Linked DNA regions of Homo sapiens: region 1 is linked to region 2. The links come from fine-mapping of genetic effects on plasma protein levels. A gene starts in region 2. The other region holds a variant in brackets. All regions are shown on one strand. Distances are between the middles of the regions. Region 1 overlaps CDH15 (cadherin 15). Region 2 holds the start of CDH15 (cadherin 15).

The links. A credible set is the group of variants that fine-mapping cannot tell apart. PIP is the posterior inclusion probability: the model's chance that the variant is causal. The UK Biobank Pharma Proteomics Project read protein levels with antibody pairs (Olink). The fine-mapping took linkage between variants from a reference panel, not from the people measured, so its PIPs are less certain.
Region 1: its variant is the best candidate, but not a certain one, in a credible set for the plasma level of the CDH15 protein (UK Biobank, PIP 0.71). The variant lies in the coding sequence of CDH15. If it changes the protein, the assay may bind it differently, which can mimic a change of level.

What each region holds. Positions count from the first base shown.
Region 1 is chr16:89,183,687-89,186,578 of GRCh38, forward strand. CDH15 (cadherin 15) reads left to right here. Exons shown (of 14, transcript NM_004933.3): 4 at 1-6; 5 at 1,487-1,647. Among named protein-coding and RNA genes, the nearest start is that of CDH15, 13 kb to the left of the region's middle. RefSeq lists a silencer at 1,695-1,989. The variant G/A (reference allele first, on the strand shown) is at 1,582.
Region 2 is chr16:89,170,513-89,173,404 of GRCh38, forward strand. CDH15 (cadherin 15) reads left to right here and starts at 1,236. Exons shown (of 14, transcript NM_004933.3): 1 at 1,236-1,361. The coding sequence starts at 1,320. RefSeq lists a silencer at 672-1,311.

The DNA.
Region 1 (2,892 bases), 13 kb after region 2:
TCCCAGGTGAGACAGGACCACAGCCCCGGGCCGGGAGGGGCTGCAAGGAAGGGCTCTGTGAAGTCCAGGACTTCCCTTAAGCAAGAATTCCAGAGGCCCCTCAGAGTCTAAAAATAAGTAAACAAGTCTCCGAGGCAGGTCCGTTTCCACAGGTCAACTCCTGCCACTTCCCATTCCAACATAAATTTCAAACCCAAAAATCTGAGCCTGGGAGTGGAGGTTTTTCAGGGGTCTTGTTCTCCCCCAAAAGCAAATGACTTCTCCCTCCTGCTGAGGGGGCCATCTGGAGCCAGGCACACTCCATCCTCACCCTGTACTCACATGGGGTCCAGAGCACCCACAGGCATCTCTAGGTTGTGATTCACCCTAAACCCAGGCTGACCTGTAAGCTCCAGCCACGGGGACTCGCTCCCACCTCCCTGGGGGCCGGTGGTAAAGACCTGGTGGAAAGGCACAGGCCCCCTCGTGTCTGAGGCTACCAAGGACTGTGGCCAGGCCTGGCCCAGGCTCAGGCTTGGAGGCTCATATCCCGCCTCAGTTTCCTTCCCGTGTCTGTGGCAGTGGCCTCCGCGCCTCGTTCTGCCCCAGGTGACAGACAGCACGTCCTAGCTCCAGCTGTCCCGGGGGGAAGTCACAGCCAGCCAGGAGCTGCTCCCCAGGGTGGCCCAAAGCCCGTCCTTCCCACCCCACCTCGGTGGCTAAGTCCACCTGAGCTGCCAGAGGGGTCAGGCCTAAATCTCAGGAGAGGGAAATGGGGGGAGGTGAAACCTGGTCCTGCCATATGTGGTCCCTCTAGCGGCACCTTCGTGAGTACCGCTTCCCACAGCAGGTGGGGCGGGGGCTCTGGCCTACACAGTCACAGTGCGCGTCCTCTGCTCGGCTGTCGTGTGTCCTGCACCCAGCCTGCCCGCGCATCCTCTGTTTTATCCTGCCCTTGCATCCTCTGTCTTATCCTGTCCGTGCGTCCTCTGTTTTATCCTTCCCCTGCGTCCTCTGCCCAGCCTGCCCGTGCGTCCTCTGTCTTATCCTGCCCGTGTGTCCTCTGTTCAGCCTGCCCATGCATCCTCTGTCACCCTGGATGCCAGCAGCTCCTGGAGGCCCCCGCTAGCTAGCCCAATCTGACCCAGCGCCCTTAGCCCCTGCACTGGGCAGGCCCAGGAGCCAGCACCTGACCCAGGTCGCATCCAATGCTCCTGTGCTCCGACCCCATAAACAGCACAAGCCGGGCAAAAGGCTTCGACCACATAGGTGGCCTGGACACAGCACGGTGGGCTTCAGGGGCAGCGGGAAGCATCTCGACCTGGGGGTTGCCGCATGCTGGCCGCCTCGGTGACGCAAACAGCAGCATGGACTGACTGCCCCATCTGGGGTCAGCCGTGCTGGAACCGGGGAGCCTGTGCACACGAGGTGCCCCCACGCCCCTCACAATGCCCCCAGCCCATCGGCCCTGTGGACGTTGGCCCTCACGCCTCCCTGTGCTTCCCAGGCACCTATGTGACCAGGGCAGAGGCCACAGATGCCGACGACCCCGAGACGGACAACGCAGCGCTGCGGTTCTCCATCCTGCAGCAGGGCAGCCCC[G/A]AGCTCTTCAGCATCGACGAGCTCACAGGAGAGATCCGCACAGTGCAAGTGGGGCTGGACCGCGAGGTGAGGTGGCGCCCCGGCAGCTCCACACCCGCACGGCCAGGGCAGCCCATCTCCTGCGGGTCCCTCTGCCCCCAGCCTGCCCACCCCAGACGCTCCTGTCCCTGCCGTCACTGCAGAGCTTGCAGTGGCCCTGGCTCCTGAGGAGATGGCATGGGGTGAACCCACTGATGCGCAGACAGGAGCCGCGCTGGCCCGGGTGGGAGGGGTCTGGTGCAAGTAGGGCGTGAGGGGCCCGGCACAGGGCAGGGCTCCCCAAGCAGCCCCGCCCCTCTCAGCCTCATGGCAACGGCTCCCCGCTGGTAAGTAACTAACTCCTTCTGTCAGGGCCCCTGTTGCCCCTTGCTGTCGGACTTCGGTGCTCCCGGAAGACCCCCCTTGAGTCAGCTCCTCTAGGAAGCCCTCCTGGTTACACTGTTACGTGGTCTTTGTCCATTTCTGTTCCTGCCACTAACCACGGTTCCCCAGGGCAGGGACCCAAGCTCACTGGTGTGCTAGGTGCCCAGCACAGAGTAGGTGCTCTGTAAATGCTTACCCAGCGCACAGTAGGTGCTCTGTAAACACCCAGCGCACAGTGGTGCTCTGTAAACGCTTATCCAGCACACAGTAGGTGCTCTGTAAACGCTTACCCAGCGCAGAGTAGGTGCTCTGTAAAGGCTTACCCAGCGCAGAGTAGGTGCTCTGTAAATGCTTACCCAGCGCACAGTAGGTGCTCTGTAAACACCCAGCGCACAGTGGTGCTCTGTAAACGCTTACCCAGCGCACAGTAGGTGCTCTGTAAAGGCTTACCCAGCGCACAGTAGGTGCTCTGTAAACGCTTACCCAGCACACAGTAGGTGCTCTGTAAACGCTTACCCAGCGCACAGTAGGTGCTCTGTGAACACCCAGCGCACAGTAGGTGCTCTGTAAACGCTCACCCAGTGCACAGTAGGTGCTCTGTAAACGCTCACCCAGCGCACAGTAGGTGCTCTGTAAACGCTCACCCAGCGCACAGTAGGTGCTCTGTAAAGGCTCACCCAGCGCACAGAAGGTGCTCTGTAAAGGCTCACCCAGCGCACAGTAGGTGCTCTGTAAACGCTCACCCAGCGCACAGTAGGTGCTCTGTAAAGGCTCACCCAGCGCACAGAAGGTGCTCTGTAAAGGCCCACCCAGCGCACAGTAGGTGCTCTGTAAACGCTTACCCAGCGCACAGTAGGTGCTCTGTAAACGCTTACCCAGCGCACAGTAGGTGCTCTGTGAACACCCAGC
Region 2 (2,892 bases):
AGCAGAGGTACCGGGTCTGCTCCCATCACAGAGAGGAACGGGCTCCCCGGCCCGGCCCTGGGCTGGTCGGCAACCCCCACTCCCCACCCTGCCTGCTCAAAAGAAAGGATCCTCCTGCCTCCAGCCCCCTCCACCCCCTCTCCAGGACCTTCCTGACCGTGCGCTGGGCCTGTGCAGGTGTTGAGCCACACCCACACCATCCCAGGGGGCGGGGTCTCGAAGGGGAGAACAGGTGCCACAGTCAACAGGAGGGAGGGCTTCTGGCCGAGGTGGCAAGGAGGCTCCAGGAGGCGGCAGCGTTGACCTTGGGTGTTGAGGGATGATGAGAAGGAGTTCTGTAGGAAGGAAGGTGCTCCAGGCAGGGGGCCTCGGGGAACAAGGGGATGCTGGAGGAGGTGCGTGGACTGGGGGAATTGGGGGTGTCCTACGAGCCACGCTGGTATCAGAGGCGTGTGAACCAGAGCAGTTCCATACTGAATAAGAGCTGGGCAAAATGAGGTCGCGAGGAGGTGCGTGGAAGGCGGGCCTAGCGTTCAGTGGGATGCGGGGAGGCGCAGGAGACGCAGCCAGAGAGGCGAGGGGCCCAAGGAAGTGCTCAAGAGGTGTCCCCCGGCAGGGACTACAATGCAGATTCCCTGGAGCAGGGGCGAGCCGGGCCCAAGGAGCAGGAAATGAAGAAGCCAGGAATCCCAGCTGGTCCCTGACCCGGACGCACCCACCCTGCCTTCCCCACAGCCTGGCCTCTGGCTCTGCTCCCAACGCAGCAAGCCGGGGTATCTCCGACCTAGCCCTGGCCCTGCCCGCCGGAACCCCGCAAAAGCTATCACTCAGCCCTCGGCCCCGCCCCGGCCCCACCCCGGCCCCACCCCGCACTCTCACAAGGTGTCACTCAGCCCTCGGCCCCGCCCCGCCCGCCCCATCCTCCTCTGGCTCCGCCCCACCAGCCTCGTGCGGTCACCGCCCCGCCGGCGCACCTGCGCTGTCACTCAGCCCTCGGCCCCGGCCCCGCCCCGCCTGCCCCACTCGCACACGGGCTATCACTCAGCCTGCGCCCCGCCCTAGCTCGCCAGAGGCTCCGCCCCACCCGCCTGCCAACACGCTGTCACTCAGCCTTAGCCCTGCCCAGGCCGGCCCTCGGCCCGTCAGAGGCCTCCTTCGTGCTGTCACTCAGCCCTTGCCCCGCCCCCTCCCCGCCCCCCTCACACGTGCTGTCTCTGTCTCTGGCCCTGGCCCGCCCCGCGCACTTGCGCTGTCACTCAGCCTGGACGCGCTTCTTCGGGTCGCGGGTGCACTCCGGCCCGGCTCCCGCCTCGGCCCCGATGGACGCCGCGTTCCTCCTCGTCCTCGGGCTGTTGGCCCAGGTAAGGCATCGGCACCTGCGGGGGTCCCCGCTGCCTCCCTCGACGCTGCGGGACAGTGTCTTCAACTGCAGCCGCACAGGTCTCCCCCAGAACCACTGGCCCTGGTCGCCTTTGGGGGCCTGTGAGCGGAGTGGCTCCGGGTGGGTCCCTGGGCTGGGGGCAGCACCCCAGGGGTTGTGGGGAGTGAGTGTAACCAAACACTCCATCTGGTGGAATCACCCCCAGGACTGCAGAGTGCTGCTGGGGTCAGGGACCCCAGGCAGGGGCCACCCAGGTAGCCGTGCCCTCTCTTTGGAGGAACCGCTGCCGGGGTCTGGGGGTTGCCAGTCTTGAGTGGAGCAGAGAGAGGGGGGAGCGGCAGGAGTGCCCCTCTCTGGGGGGCTGGGGGCCAGGTTTCTATAGGGACTCCCTGCGGTGGGCACAGGACCCCTGGCTAGTCTTGGGTTTTGTCCAAACCCCCCACCCCAAGTTCCTGGCCAGCAGGGGTGGCTGCAGGCCCTGCCCCCAGGAACTCACCCTCACGGCTACTTCTCGATTGGGAGGGCCCAGCCCGAGCCAGGTCGCAACACACGGCCTTGCAGAGTGGCGTGTGGCAGCCCTGGGGGCTCTGTTCCTGGGCTTCACCTGGGACCCTGCCGCAGCTGCCTGGGGTGATCAGGCCTGGGGGCCCAGCCCCCAGAGGCTGCTGGACTCTGCCCCTAAAAATCTTGTCTGGACTGCTGGCACCGTGGTCTCTCCAACGTGGGAGCAAGCCAGAGTGGAAGGAAGCCCAGGCCTCAGCCCCCCACACCCGACATGGGTACTGCCTAGCTGGAGCCACGTCTCCTCACACCCTAGGGGGACCTAGACATGGAGGATGTGGCCTCAGTGGCTTCAGCCCCCAGGGACTGGGCTGGGCTGGGGCATGGCCGGCTGTGGTTGGGACGTCACTGGGTACAAGAGGGCAGCCTCTCTCTGGCCAATTCGAGAGAGAATGCACATAAAGGGCTTAGCGGTGCTCACAGTATTCATTGCTCTTGTGGTCCTGGGGTGGTCAGGGAGTGCTGGACACAGTGAGTAAGGGAAGCCACTCCTTTCCCAGCCCCCACTGAAGGGGCTTCCTGAGTCCCCTCATTCCCACAGGCCTCCCAGCTCCAGCTGGCTCCAATTTCAGCCCCTGGCAGCTGACCAGGCGCCTGGCCAGCCAGACCCTCCAGCAGCTGCCCCTGAGGGCACCACGGCTCCTGCCACCCCCGACTCCCCCATCTGGAGACAGTGGTGGGGGGAGACAGTGGCTCAGCATGCGTGCTCACCCCCCGGCCCTCCACCCCTCAGCCCTCTGCCGGGGAGCGCAGGCTGGGGGGCTCCATGCCTCCAGGGCCCTTCCCCACCTGCTCTGGGGACAGGGTTTCTTCCCTGGCACCCCAACCCAGGGCATGGTGGTGGGGAGGCTGGCGCCTGTGAAAACATTCCTCCAGACCTCTTCCTTTGGATTTGGGAGTGTCTGCCTTTCAAAAGGCCCCAGGGGGCTCTGTGGCAGGTGGGGAGGCAG